4 separate regions of the Homo sapiens genome follow, and regions 2, 3 and 4 are each reported to be linked to region 1. The links are microRNA targets in miRTarBase. Many come from high-throughput screens and were not tested one by one. Region 1 holds a microRNA gene; each other region holds the end of a gene's coding sequence.
The links. Region 1 holds the annotated microRNA hsa-miR-6715b-3p (CUCAAACCGGCUGUGCCUGUGG, at 1,249-1,270, shown strand). A microRNA usually pairs through its seed, bases 2 to 8, with sites in the 3' UTR of a target mRNA and lowers its output. Matches are read on the target gene's strand: a 7mer-m8 pairs with bases 2 to 8, a 7mer-A1 pairs with bases 2 to 7 and ends in A, and an 8mer does both.

Region 1 (3,184 bases):
CAGAGCTCTTCTGCAAGCCCTGTACTAGGTTGAATCCCTTTGCTCCATTCAGGATGAATATCCCTTATCCAAAATGCTTGGGACCAGAAGTGTTTCAGATTTCAGATTTTTTTTTGGATTTTGGAATCTTTGCATTATACTAGTTGAGCATCCCTAACTGGAAAACCTGGAATCTGAAATCTAAAATGCTACAATGAGCATTTCCTGTGAGCATGACCTTTGAGCATCATGTGGGTGCTCAAAAAGTTTCAGATTTGGGAGCATTCGGATTTTGGATTTTCACATTAGTGATGATCAACTGTGCAACCATGGCACCAGCCCACTGTCACCCTCCTTAACAGTAATTTCTCTTTCCCTTAGTGTCTAACATCTCTCTCCTTGCTAGACAGTAAATCCCTTGAGGACAGGGCCTGCTTGGGTCACATTTATTTCTGAAATCCTAGTGCCCTGCCAGGCCAGGCAGTGCTGGATACTCAGTAAAGGTTTTTTGACTTGCACATGACATTCTCATGACATCTCATTTTTCCTTCCTTCCTTCCTTCCTTCTTTCTTTTCTTTTCTTTTTTCTTTCTCTTTCTTTCTTTCTTTCTTTCTTTCTTTCTTTCTTTCTTTTCTTTCTTTCTTTCTTTCTTTCTTTCTTTCTTTCTTTCTTTCTTTCTTTATTTCTTTCTGTCTGTCTGTCTGTCTCTCTTTCTTTCTTCTTTTTCTTTCTTTCTTTTTTTTTTTTTTGAGACGGAGTTTCGCTCTTGTTGCCCAGGCTGGAGTACAATGGCGCGATCTCAGCTCACTGCAACCTCTGCCTCCCAGATTCAAGTGATTCTCCTGCCTTAGCCTCCCGAGTAGTTGGGATTACAGGCGTGCCCCACCAAGCCCAGGTAATTTTGTATTTTTAGTAGAGGTGGGGTTTCACCATGTTGGTCAGGCTGGTCTCAAACTCCTGACCTCAAGTGATCTGCCCACCTCGGCCTCCCAAAGTGCTGGGATTACAGGCGTGAGCCACCGAGCCCGGCCCCATGACATCTCATTTTCTATTATTATTGTTCACTGCATGCTCTGTTTGGAAGCTCAGCACTTCCTGATTCTTTGGGGGTATTTGAATTTAGGGTGCAGTTAGAACTTTCAGAGTAGATAACAAACCTCAACTCCTTCGTTTGGCTTGAGCTGTTCCCCACCCCTGGCTGGAAGACTCCAGGAGCAGGTGAAGGTTGTGCCCACAGGCACGACTGGTTTGGCAATTCAGTAAAAATGCTCAAACCGGCTGTGCCTGTGGACGCAGCCCAGCGTGAACTCAACCGTTTGGAAAACAGAGGAAAACAGAGACGCTTACTCCGCAGGGAGAGCTCCACGACCAGGACTCCCCCGGTCTGGTCTCGCAGGAGGCGCTTCCGTTTATCGCAGGTCTGAAGACCCAGAGAGGCAGACAGGAGAGAAGCGGGGAAGGTGGGATGATGCGTGAGCAAAGGGGAGAAAAGAGAAAGAAAAGATATTTTAAAAAGGTCACAAATGGGGTGGAGTCACAATTCCCCAGTCAACAGAGATGAGTTACCTTTTTAAAAAATAACCCAGAAGACACACTGTTCATCCCTTCTCCAACTTGAATACAAAGAGAAAGCTTTACTTTGTTAACTCTTCAAGCCAGAGGGAATCCTTCTGGAAGAGGTCATTGAGTGTGGAAGGGATTGATCCCATTTCCTTTGATAAGGCTTCTACTTACCACTCTCACCACAATAATTAGAGAAGTGGACACTTGCAATTGTATTCTGGTTCATTTTCTTTTCTTTCTTTTTAAAAATATGGCATTGATACTTATCCTTTGATCAACTGTACAGTGTCTCTCCCCTCCTCTCCCTGGCTCTGCACTCTCTGGTTTCTTTCCCTTTTGCTGTTTGTGCTCATAAAGAACCATTTTCTGGCCAAATGAAACAACAGCAATAGAGATTATGACCTTATTTTTGTTGGTTACTATAGGCTATGTGGATAGCAGCCTCTTTGGAAACACCGAGGTCTCCAGTTGAAAGAGACCAGAAAGGAGAACAGTTTGAGATTTGGCATGTCTAAGTGTCTAAGTGGTGGTTCTCAGGCTTGAGTGAGCACCGGCATGACTGCTGGCTTGTTAAAGCACAGCCTGCCCAGGCCTTCCTCTCACGTGGTCAAATCAGCCATGATCCAGTGTCGGGAATTTCTGCAGCATCTCTCTGAAGTCACAGAGGTGAACCCTCGGGCTGTTCAGTCAAGACTAAAAACACCCACCTTTTGAGTTATTTCCACGGCCTGTCCCTGCCACCTAGACCTTGAATTTCCCTTGCCCTTTTCACTTCTTCCAAGTATTTCCAAGTCTGTTATCACTTTCATTTACCTACACTGCCCTCTGATGAGGGAAGGGCCATCATTACTTAACACACTTTGCTTAAGGATGAGAAAGCAGGTCCCAGCAGGTTAGGCGACACATGCCAGACCATGTGGGTTGTTGGAGGCAGGGCAGATAGGGCCCTGAGCATCTGCCCTCACGAGCATCTGCCCTTATACTCAGTGCCATTTCCTCCAGATGTCCTCAGCACACAGCTGCCCTGGCCTGGTTATGATCTCCCCACTCAAACTCCAGCTCCTCCAATACTGGCACCCTTTAGGTAACATTGTCCTTCTGGAGAGAGGCAGCTCACCACTGGGCAGGAGAGTTTCTCACTGTCGCAGATGAACGTCTCACAGTGTAACCACACCTTGGAGAGTTTGGGGATGTTCTGGAACCGGAAAGCATTGAATTGGAAGGTTGCCCTGTGATCTCTCCCATTCTCATGCACGAGGACGGTTTCATCCGTGGGGCAGCTGAGGCAGATGGGGAAAGAAGAGTGAACTGTCATCTCCTTGAACTCCAGCAAGAGCTGCTGAGCGATTTACACACAAGGCTCCCGAGGTGGTTATATGACCTCTAACCTTCCCAGGCATTTTGATTAGCAGCACCTCACTTGATCTTCACAACTGTGAGGTCAAGTTGATGAGCTAGGAGATGGGTATTACTGTCCTCATTCTATAGACAAGGTACGATGGGAGGGGAGTGACTTATAAGAGTCACACTTTTAGTAAGTTACACCTGTGTCCCAAAGAAAGAAAATCCCTAGGAGATAAGGCCCTCCGAGGACTGGAATATGTCCAGCCCTTGAGGGACATACAAAGTAAGGACAATGGC
Region 2 (3,184 bases), not on the chromosome of region 1:
AAAGGAGCATCTATGTTGAAAATTCTAGCTACCACAAGGCCTACTAAGCAGTCATTTCCCTCTCTTCCTGAAGACACAAGAATCAAAGCCTTTGACAAGCTCCGTACCTGTTCCTCAGCCACCGTGGCTTGGCTAGGCACTCAGGAAAGGAACAAGTTTTGCATCTACAAAAAAGAAGTGGATGATAACTACAATGAAGACCAGAAGAAAAGAGAGCAAAACCAATGTCTAGGACCAGATATAAGGAAGAAGTCAGAAAAGGTCCTCTGTAAATATTTCCACAGTCAAAACCTGCAGAAAGCAGTGACCACAGAAACAATTAAAGGTCTTCAGCCTGGCAAATCTTACCTGCTGGATGTTTATGTCATAGGACATGGGGGGCACTCTGTAAAGTATCAGAGTAAGGTTGTGAAAACTAGAAAGTTCTGTTAGTTACCTTCTTATAGAGATATATTATGTAGAACTCCAGGAGGGACATTAAATCACTTTAAGTATAAACTGACTACTCCCACAGTTGAGAGAAGTTGTGACCTGTACTTGTACTATGGAAGGAAGGATATCAACGTGTGTATATTGATGTTTATATAAGTAACTCTTGAAGGAGACTTGTTCTAGCGTGCCCCATGGTACCTAGTGTGTGTCTGATGCCGGTTGGTGTCAAAGATAGAGGGCTTCTTGAAGGAACTTGCCATTCCTTGCTTTGACCACTGCATGAACTGCTTCTAAATTATTTTATTACCTAAAAATTTAAAATATGCCATTCATTGCACACACCCACAAATGCAAATCATTCCTCTCTGTAGATGCTAGGATATATATAAATTATTTTATAAATTCTTGTTTTAAATGTCAGTGTTTCTATGATTGTAAACTATTAAATTCTTTTCCTATTAAAGTACAGATCTAATCTAAGTATTATTAAGTTGATAGCCCTCTAGTCAGTTATATTGCTATTGTAAATTCTTGTTTGTTGAGTAAAATGTTTAAATACTATATGTATCTCATGTACAAAGTTGACATACATTATATTCATGTACATAAAATTAAAGAGATTAGATTATATACTGTTCATTTTCCCAAGCAGCTACCTTGGTGTATTCAATTTCTAATCTGTCCTCAAAACTGCACCTTCTGTAGTTTGGCACCAAAACAGACCCTTTTTTAATAATTAAAAAGGGATGCCCCATCTCTCTAAAGTTACTATGGCATTAGAAATAGTTATTAAAATTTGTACTTTTGACGTTGAATGGGAGCCAGCTGTTAGGAGAGTTAAGAGAGCTACAATAGACTTGTTTTAAAAGAATAGGACAAGCCAAACACTAACTCGACAAGTATTCAACAAATTGTCCTTAATAACCTAAAATATATCACTTTATAAGCATTTATTTTAAGTACAAAATTGAGATATTTCAAGCATTTTCCATCTGTTTGAATCTTAGCAAAATAGTTAATAATTATTTTAATCTCTAGCTGATGCAACTTAACAAACACCAATCAGGACTTTTATTAGTAAGAAGAAAACTAGGAAAGCTGTTGTTTTATAACATTAATGGTCTGCTACTTTTAACTTTGATTTTTCATGGATTTTTTAAAAGTAATTTCAAGTGTAAGAGACAATTTAGGCAAATCATAACATATTTTATCAGAGACTGTGCACAAAGGGCACTTTTAGGTAGCTTCATTCTCCACAGGTTCTATACATAAATCATGAGGTGTTACGAGAATATTGGTCCAGGAATCAGAAAAGTGTGGAATTTACAATCACCTAAAGCAATATGACTTTAAGAAAATCTGTTACCTCCCATCATCTCCCTTTCCCATCTGTTAACATTTGGTGGTGATAGATTTAGATGAGTTGACATTGTTAGATACTTTCTATTATAAGAGGTTGTCTTTGGTAGAATTCTATGATTCTAAAGTGCTGTGACTACAAGTGTGGACAGGTGTAATCACTTTACCTCTACACTGCCCGCTGCATGCTGACACTGCCTTTCATATGGTGGGCATTCAACAGCAACATTCCTGTGGAGTATAGATGGCTATGACTAAGGTAGTGTAAGTGGTGGTCCTTATAAAATATGCTCTGCTTGCCTTAGGGGAAAATAGTTCCTTAAAAACGTTCTCATCCAACTCCTCAGTGTTAAGATATCTAAACAAAAGTGACCACATCTATACACAACAGTAATGACACCTGAAAGAATTTTTTAACAGATAAAGAACAGTACTCCCATGGTTATGTAACCAACCAACTAGGAAGGAGAGACTTTAAAATTGACAACATCCCAGAGATGTTATATCCTAAGTTATGAATGTGCTGCCGTTGAAGAAAAATCAGCTTTCTCATATTACTCACATATATATATTATTACATAACAATGTGTTAAATTGGACTACAGTGAATCAAAGAGTTATTGCAGCTTCTGAAGGTGACAGACTTTTAACTTTCAGATATTGCTTAATGCCTGGGAAACCCTGGGAACCACGCCAAGTCAATTTAACCAAGCTTTTGCTTTTTAGCCAGCTGTGATGGTGGTTTCTACATAGTCTGGATAAATCCAAGAATACTTTCATGGCCCTAGTGAAATTTGCCTTTTTGAAATTATTAGGAAAACGAAATACACATTATGAAACTTCTATCACTCCTAAAGAAAGGGGAAAACCTATTAAAAATGAAGCTCTTATTTACTAATGCATTTCTATTTCAGGAGCATTTGGCTAAACTGGGGACAAAAAACAAAAACTTGTTCTTAATTAACAAAAGAACTAGAAAGAAGCTCATATGAAAGCACCACCTTGTGTTCAGTAAGCTTCAGGATAGCTCTGTTGACAGCAGGGCATTTAGAGAGTCCCAAGTATAGTCATGTATCACTGGGGAGGGAAGAATCTTTGAGGACATCTAGTTTACAATCTTTATTATTTTTCAGGTGTAGAAAAGAGATTAAAGATCATAGAAGTCAGAATAAATTTGTAAAAGTTCTCATAGTCAAAACAGCTAAGTAATGGCATTGCCCAGACTCCAAAATCCTGACCAGAATATAAATCACCAATTGTTGGTTTAAAGGGGTTATTTGTGAATCATTTTCCAAAAAAAGAAGTACACTTTTTGTGTTACTTACCATTTCAAAGAAACTTATTCTTCAAGACCATTTCAGATTTCCTTAGGAATGTATGTGTTACCCATAAT
Region 3 (3,184 bases), not on the chromosome of region 1:
TGGCACAATCATGGCTCACTGCAGCCTCAACCTCTTGGGCTATAGCAATCCTCTTGCTTCAGCCTCCCGAGTAGCTGGGACTACAGGTGCACACCACCACACCCAGCTAATTTTTAAAATATTTTTTAGAGTCTTGCTATGTTACCCAGGCTGGTCTCAAACTCCTAGGCTCAAGCGATCCTCACACCTCGGCCTCCCAAGGTGCTGGAATTAGAGGCATGAGCCATCATGCCTGGCTAAGATTATAGTTTTTGAAAGTGAGAAAAGGTTTGGAATAACAGGATGCCTAGTCTGGTGGAGGTAAAATGTTTGCAATACCCAGAAAGCTTTGGACCAACAGGAGCTAAAGTTTCCTTCAGACAGTTACTGTTTATTTAGCTCTTTCATTTCATTTAGAGTGAGAATAAAGAAATGTATTACAGCAATGAAAATAACAAATTACAGCTACCCTCTTATGGATACAATGTTGAGCAGAAAAGGCAAGATCATAAAAAAATGTACACTAACTAGATGATAGCTAGACTGGTGTGTTCTTATGACAATTGAGCTCTATGCTATGAGCTGTGGATTCTTCTATATGTACATTACACTTCAATTAATTCTTTAAAGTATACCATATGATTCTATTTGTTAGGCTCCCCAAAAAGACCACACGAAACTATAGTTTAGGGATACATACAAAGGTAGTAAAAATGTAAAGAGCCAGTCTAGTGATCACCTTTGGGATACAGGGAGAGGGTTGTGGATGGGATTGAAATCCACAGTAAGGGGAACTTCTGCAGTGCCAGTAGATCCTATTTCTTGGTCCAGATAGTGTTTACACAAGTATTCACTTTACAATTCTGCTAAACTGAATATATAAGGTTTTTATTGATTGATTGATTGAGACTCTGTCATCCAGGCTGGAATGCAGTGGCACAATCATGGCTCACTGATTTGATAAGCATCGACCTCCCTGACTCAAGTGATCCTCCTGCCTCCAAAGTAGCTGAGACTACAGGTCCAAGTAGCTGAGACTACAGGTATGCATGATGACATCCAGCTAATTTTTAATTTTTGGTAGAGACGGGGTCCCGCTATGTTGCCCAGGCTGGTCTTGAACTCCTGGGCTCAAGTGATCCACCCGCCTTTGCCTCCAAAAGTGCTGGGGTTACACGTGTGAGCCACCATGCCTGGCCAATATATAAGTTTTATATATAGTCTTGTCACTTAGACAAATGAATTTAGAAGATTTGAACAAATCTAAATGTTTATCAATAGGGACTATTTAATTATAATAGTCATGTAATGCATAATGCATCATTAAAAATGAAGCAGCTGTGATCCTATATGCTTATAAGAACTTAATGCTCAAATTGGCTCCTAAAACGACAAAAACTATGTTAGAAATGAATCTGATATGATACCACTTATGTCATCTCTCTCTTATATATATATATAAATATATTTTATATATAAAAGATATGTGTGTATTTTATGTAATGTATTTCATACACATTACATATAATTATATATATGCAGAGAACATTTCTAATATCTGGAATAATAGACAAGAAACTAGTCAGTGTTGCAGAGGGGAGACTAGAACTAGGAGACTTCTTTTTTTTCACTTTTGAATTTTGTATCATGTGCATCTGTTACTATTCTAATAAAGGAGAAGGAATAATTTATTTCAAAAATACTTGTTTATTGCATGGTTCTCTCCAGATTTTATGTCTAGGCTTACTTTTATCATAAAGTACTTCAGCAAAGAAGAGAAACTGGCATTCAAACATGGCCGGCCAATCATTGCCAGGCTAATTGCACAAGAGCTTCTCCAAGCAAATATTTCTCACCTATTACAAACCCCACATTGATATAGGTGCCACAAATAATAAATGGGATAAAACAGAAGCCCCTGTGCAAGGGGAAGTCAGTGAGGAAGAGGGAAGGAAACAAGAGGCAAGGAGACCACGCACATCACTAGTGTTTCTCTTCATATGGCAATTTAACATTGCTGTTCTTTGTCTTTATGAAAAATGGGGTTAGGTCAGGTTCCTTGTCATCACAAGTCTCAGAAATCATCTAGAAAACATATATTTTACACACTAGTCTCACAACTAGACAACATATTCAGTACTTCAGTGGTAGAATCTTCAGCTTTTCACACCTTAGGCAGTTCTTCCACCATCTATTTCTGTTTCTTCATTCTCAGTTCCCAAGAAGGCATAGATCAGGTCCTAGATAGGTTAGCATTTCACATGTCTACTCCATTTCATTTGCAACAATGACAATGAAAACCCAGCATGCAATGTGGCTGAGGTGCTGGGAACCCCAAACAATGTGGGGGAAAAAGCAGAGGGCACTTCACACCCCAGACGGGACAGGTTTCCATTCCTTACTGAGGGTGGAAATACTAGAGTGGAGGAGAAGAAGCCAAAAAAATTACTCATGTGAAGAAAAAAGCCTTGTCAGCCGGGCACAATGGCTCACGCCTGTAATCCCAGCACTTTGGGATGGTGAGGTGGGCAGATCACTTGAGATCAGGAGTTTGAGAGCAGCCTGACCAACATGGCAAAACCCTGTCTCTACTAAAAATAGAAAAATTAGCCAGGCGCAGTGGCAGGTGCCTGTAATCCCAGCTACTCGGGAGGCTGACGCAGGAGAATCACTCAAACCCGGGAGGCAGAGGTTGCAGTGAGCCGAGATGGCGCCACTGCATTCCTGCCTGGGCAAAAGAGCAAGACTCTGTCTCAAAAAAAAAAAAAAAAAAAAAAAAAGAAGGAAAAAAGAAAAAGAAAAAAGCCTTGTCTACTGCTTATCATGATTCTCATTTATCTGTGGTTATGTTTTAAAAATTATTTCCTAAGGAAATTCTTTCAGCCCTTCCCCATTTTTGAGGGGCTGGGGTGCACATAGTGAAAGATTTGGGTCATCTCAAAGGACACAGGTTCAGAAGCATATCATTGTTGCAGTGATCCAAACCCAAGTATGTCATTTCTTCCTCAAAATCCCATTTGCTGCTCTTGCTTGGCAGTGAATATTGCTGATGAGGATGAGAGGCGTAGGTGAAGAGAAAGGGGTCTTCTTGAGGTGAATGGTATGCAGGAGACTGGACGTAGCTGTTAAAATCCACATGTACTTTCTCTTCATAAAGATTACCCGCTGGATTTGGCCATAATGGGGGACAGCCAGTTTTGGCTGC
Region 4 (3,184 bases), not on the chromosome of region 1:
TTGACCAAATCATGAAAACAACTGTTCACTGTAGATTTTTCAGTGGTTCTCTTTTATGTGTTATAATCAAGATACCTTTTATTAAAAAAATAACAATACATTCTTTGTTTTACATGGAGCATATTAGGGATTACTGAAACAATCTGAATACATTGATGTATATATATAGTATTTTTTTATTTTATTATTTCTTTATAGGCTCTCAAAATTAGAGAGATGTGTAATTGTCCACCACTGTCTAATCCAGACCCTCGATTACTATTCAAACTCAGCACGAAGCATTTTCTTGAAGAATCAGAGAAAGAAGACCTAAATATCACGAAGAAACAGAAAATGGATACTCTTCCTATTCAAAAACAGGAGCAAATACCATTAACATACATAGTTGAGAAAAGAACGGGCAGTTGAATTAAAATTTATGAGACACAAGATATATGAAGAATGTTGCAGTCCTTATCATTTTATGTTACTTTTTAAAAAATGATGTTTGAAGTGAAAAAAAAAAGGATATTCAGGGTCAAATCATGTACATTACAGATATTATCTAAATTCTTCTAGAATTTATTTTTCATGAAATATTGATGTATTTTAATCTATGTTAAAATATCTTCAATGAGGAAAATGTCACAGAATAAATTTATATTACACATTTTACTCTGTCTTCTACTTGCTTTTGATTTAGAAGGCAGACCCCTAGTGGATGAGAAATGAGCCCATACGGTAGTTTTTATAGTAGAGAATGTTTCAACTGAGCCTAAACTGGATTTCTAAGTCTGGGTCGTTATGATGAAGGGGGAAACAGTCTGAAGGTATCTGTTTGCAGGAAATAGTTTGCATTGGGGTGGGATTATGTGGAAAAGGGGGCCTCAGGATAGAGAATTTCCTTGTCTTCACCTGTGGATGACTGGAGAAAATGCTACTGGCAGAAGCCATTTTCATAGGGAGGCAAAAGAAGTACAGTTTGTGGTTCAGATGACAAAGCAAGAAACAGAATTGGGGGAGAGGGCATTTCCACAGAGATACAGCGTGTTCCTGGTGCACTGAAATCTTAACAGAAGTTTATGTCATTTGGTTGCTCCATGAGATTACCATTTGGGAATCTCGGGTTCCCAGAGAAGAAAAAGAGGCAAAGGCAAGGCACTGTCCCTCAAAAGAGGCTGAGGCAAGGCACTGTCCCCAAGTTGACCTTCCTGAGCAGCAGATATCAACAAGACGACTGGAGGAAAACGACAAGAGAAGCAGCACAAGACATACCCCCAGTGGTGCCCAGAAATTGCTGCATTATATAAATGTGGAAATACGAGTTATTTAATATTTGTATTCCCAAACTAGTGAAGTCTAGTGATGCTTAGGTTATATTTCTAAGAAGGGCATTTTTCTTGAAATACATTATATTAAATAAATATTTTCTTAGAGAATTAAAGAGGAAAGGGACTACTTTGTATTGTGAATCTACTATGAACTGGGCCCTATATTTATCTTTATTCCATAACCCTACTAGGTTTTATTATTCTCACTTTACAATGACAAATAGGCTTCGAGAAGTTACATAATATATCCAATATCTCTCACCTAGATAGAACAAAGCTGAGTCTATCTGACTACAAATCTGTCCATTTTTTTACAACTCTCAGATATCTAAGACTAAGCTATCAAGACAAGGAACAAAGTATTCTCAGTTGTTCATTAGCTTCCCCACATATGGCTTCAATATAAGTAAAAATCTCATCATTATGAAATCAGGGACCACTTGTGTTTTCTGTAGGTTGATTTTATAGGTTCTTCTCTCAGACCCTTCTATCAAAATTGACATGAAAAGCATAGATGAGGCAGTGTAGGAGAGTAGAACCTCTCCCCCTGCCTGTGAAAGCCTGTGAAATCTCATTTGGGATGTGTCCTGACATTATTAAATCTTCTTGGACAAAATATCTAGTTGTTAAGAAGATAAGTTCAGAGGCTGTTTATGTTTCTCAGGGATTATTATACATTACTTGTAAGGAATTTCCTGATCTGCACACGAGACAACATTGGTCATGAAGAGGTTCATATTAACTATTCTCCATATAATCATTTTTTACACTCCTTGTGATTGGAGTATTGTAAAAGGCACTCCATAACATATAAAGACACTTGGAGAATGTCACCTAAAGGTAAACAGTAAAACACAGCATTAGATTTTCCTGCAGATTTCCTAGGAAAATAATGTAGCAACGGCCTACTTTTTCTTCCATTCCCATTGTCACTTCTAATTGTGTTGTTCATACTTGCTAGAAACATATATAAGTTGACACCATGTCAGAAAGAGCAGAGATAATATCTTTATAGTATATGAAAAAGATTTTTTTTAACCAGTGGAATTAAATGTAAAAGAAATGTTACAGTTCAGCTCAATGCTTTAGAAGAAATTAAATAGCAGTTGAAATACAAGATGTATATATATACTTTAAATTTTATATGGAAATAAGCTGTATGTTCTACACTTAGTTGCAGAACTACTTTGTTCCTGTCAATACTTTTCATGTGCCTATAGGATTTAGATGATAGGCTGGTTAACTTAGTTGTTAGGAGCATGATGCTAATAAATCCAAGGCACAAACTCAACCCGATCTTTTCTATAATTCAGATAGGGTGAGACTATCCTCTAAAACTAAAGGACAGTGTGTATATTTACTGCTATATACTTATAATGCTTTGCACATTATAGGCATTCAATTAACATTGACACTGTACAATAATTATCTGTTCAAAGGATTGAAAAAAAGGAGAAACAATCATACTCTGTAAAATCTGCTTCTGTAGTTGTGGAACCCTGGACAAGTCATGCAAACTCTCTAACCCTCATTTCTTAATTGTAAAATGGGGACAAAAAAAATCCTCCTAGGTTGACCAATGACCAAGTGAAATGATATACTTAAAGCATTTAACACAAAGTCTAGAGCTGCAAATGTAATAAAAATTGTTACCATATACTGAATGCATACTTTGTACTATTAGTCCATTTTCACACTGCTATAAAGACATACCCGAGACTAGGTAATTTATAAAGAAAAGGGATTTAATTGACTCACAGTTCTACATGGCTGGGGAGGCTTCAGGAATCTCACAATCATGGCGGAAGGGTAAGAGGCATGTCTCACGTGGTGGCAGGCAAGAGAGAGTGAGTAAGAGCAGGGAAAACTGCCCC

Region 2: the mRNA of NDNF is a reported target of hsa-miR-6715b-3p. The part of its 3' UTR that is shown has no 7-base or 8-base seed match.
Region 3: the mRNA of GCM1 is a reported target of hsa-miR-6715b-3p. Seed matches in the 3' UTR shown: 7mer-m8 at 2,652-2,658 and 7mer-A1 at 1,767-1,773.
Region 4: the mRNA of OMA1 is a reported target of hsa-miR-6715b-3p. Seed matches in the 3' UTR shown: 7mer-A1 at 486-492.

The regions. Positions count from the first base shown.
Region 1 is chr10:112,297,708-112,300,891 of GRCh38, reverse strand. MIR6715B (microRNA 6715b) reads left to right here and starts at 1,204; the gene lies at 1,204-1,280. TECTB (tectorin beta) reads right to left here. Exons shown (of 11, transcript NM_058222.3): 8 at 2,661-2,823; 9 at 1,328-1,400. It overlaps MIR6715A (microRNA 6715a), which reads right to left and starts at 1,280; the gene lies at 1,202-1,280.
Region 2 is chr4:121,033,512-121,036,695 of GRCh38, reverse strand. It overlaps NDNF (neuron derived neurotrophic factor), which reads left to right. Exons shown (of 4, transcript NM_024574.4): 4 at 1-1,083. The coding sequence ends at 432. Among named protein-coding and RNA genes, the nearest start is that of NDNF-AS1, 36 kb to the left of the region's middle.
Region 3 is chr6:53,125,295-53,128,478 of GRCh38, forward strand. GCM1 (glial cells missing transcription factor 1) reads right to left here. Exons shown (of 6, transcript NM_003643.4): 6 at 1,667-3,184. The coding sequence ends at 2,912. Among named protein-coding and RNA genes, the nearest start is that of GCM1, 22 kb to the right of the region's middle.
Region 4 is chr1:58,478,189-58,481,372 of GRCh38, reverse strand. OMA1 (OMA1 zinc metallopeptidase) reads left to right here. Exons shown (of 9, transcript NM_145243.5): 9 at 199-654. The coding sequence ends at 408. It also overlaps a transcript of DAB1 not described here. Among named protein-coding and RNA genes, the nearest start is that of OMA1, 67 kb to the left of the region's middle.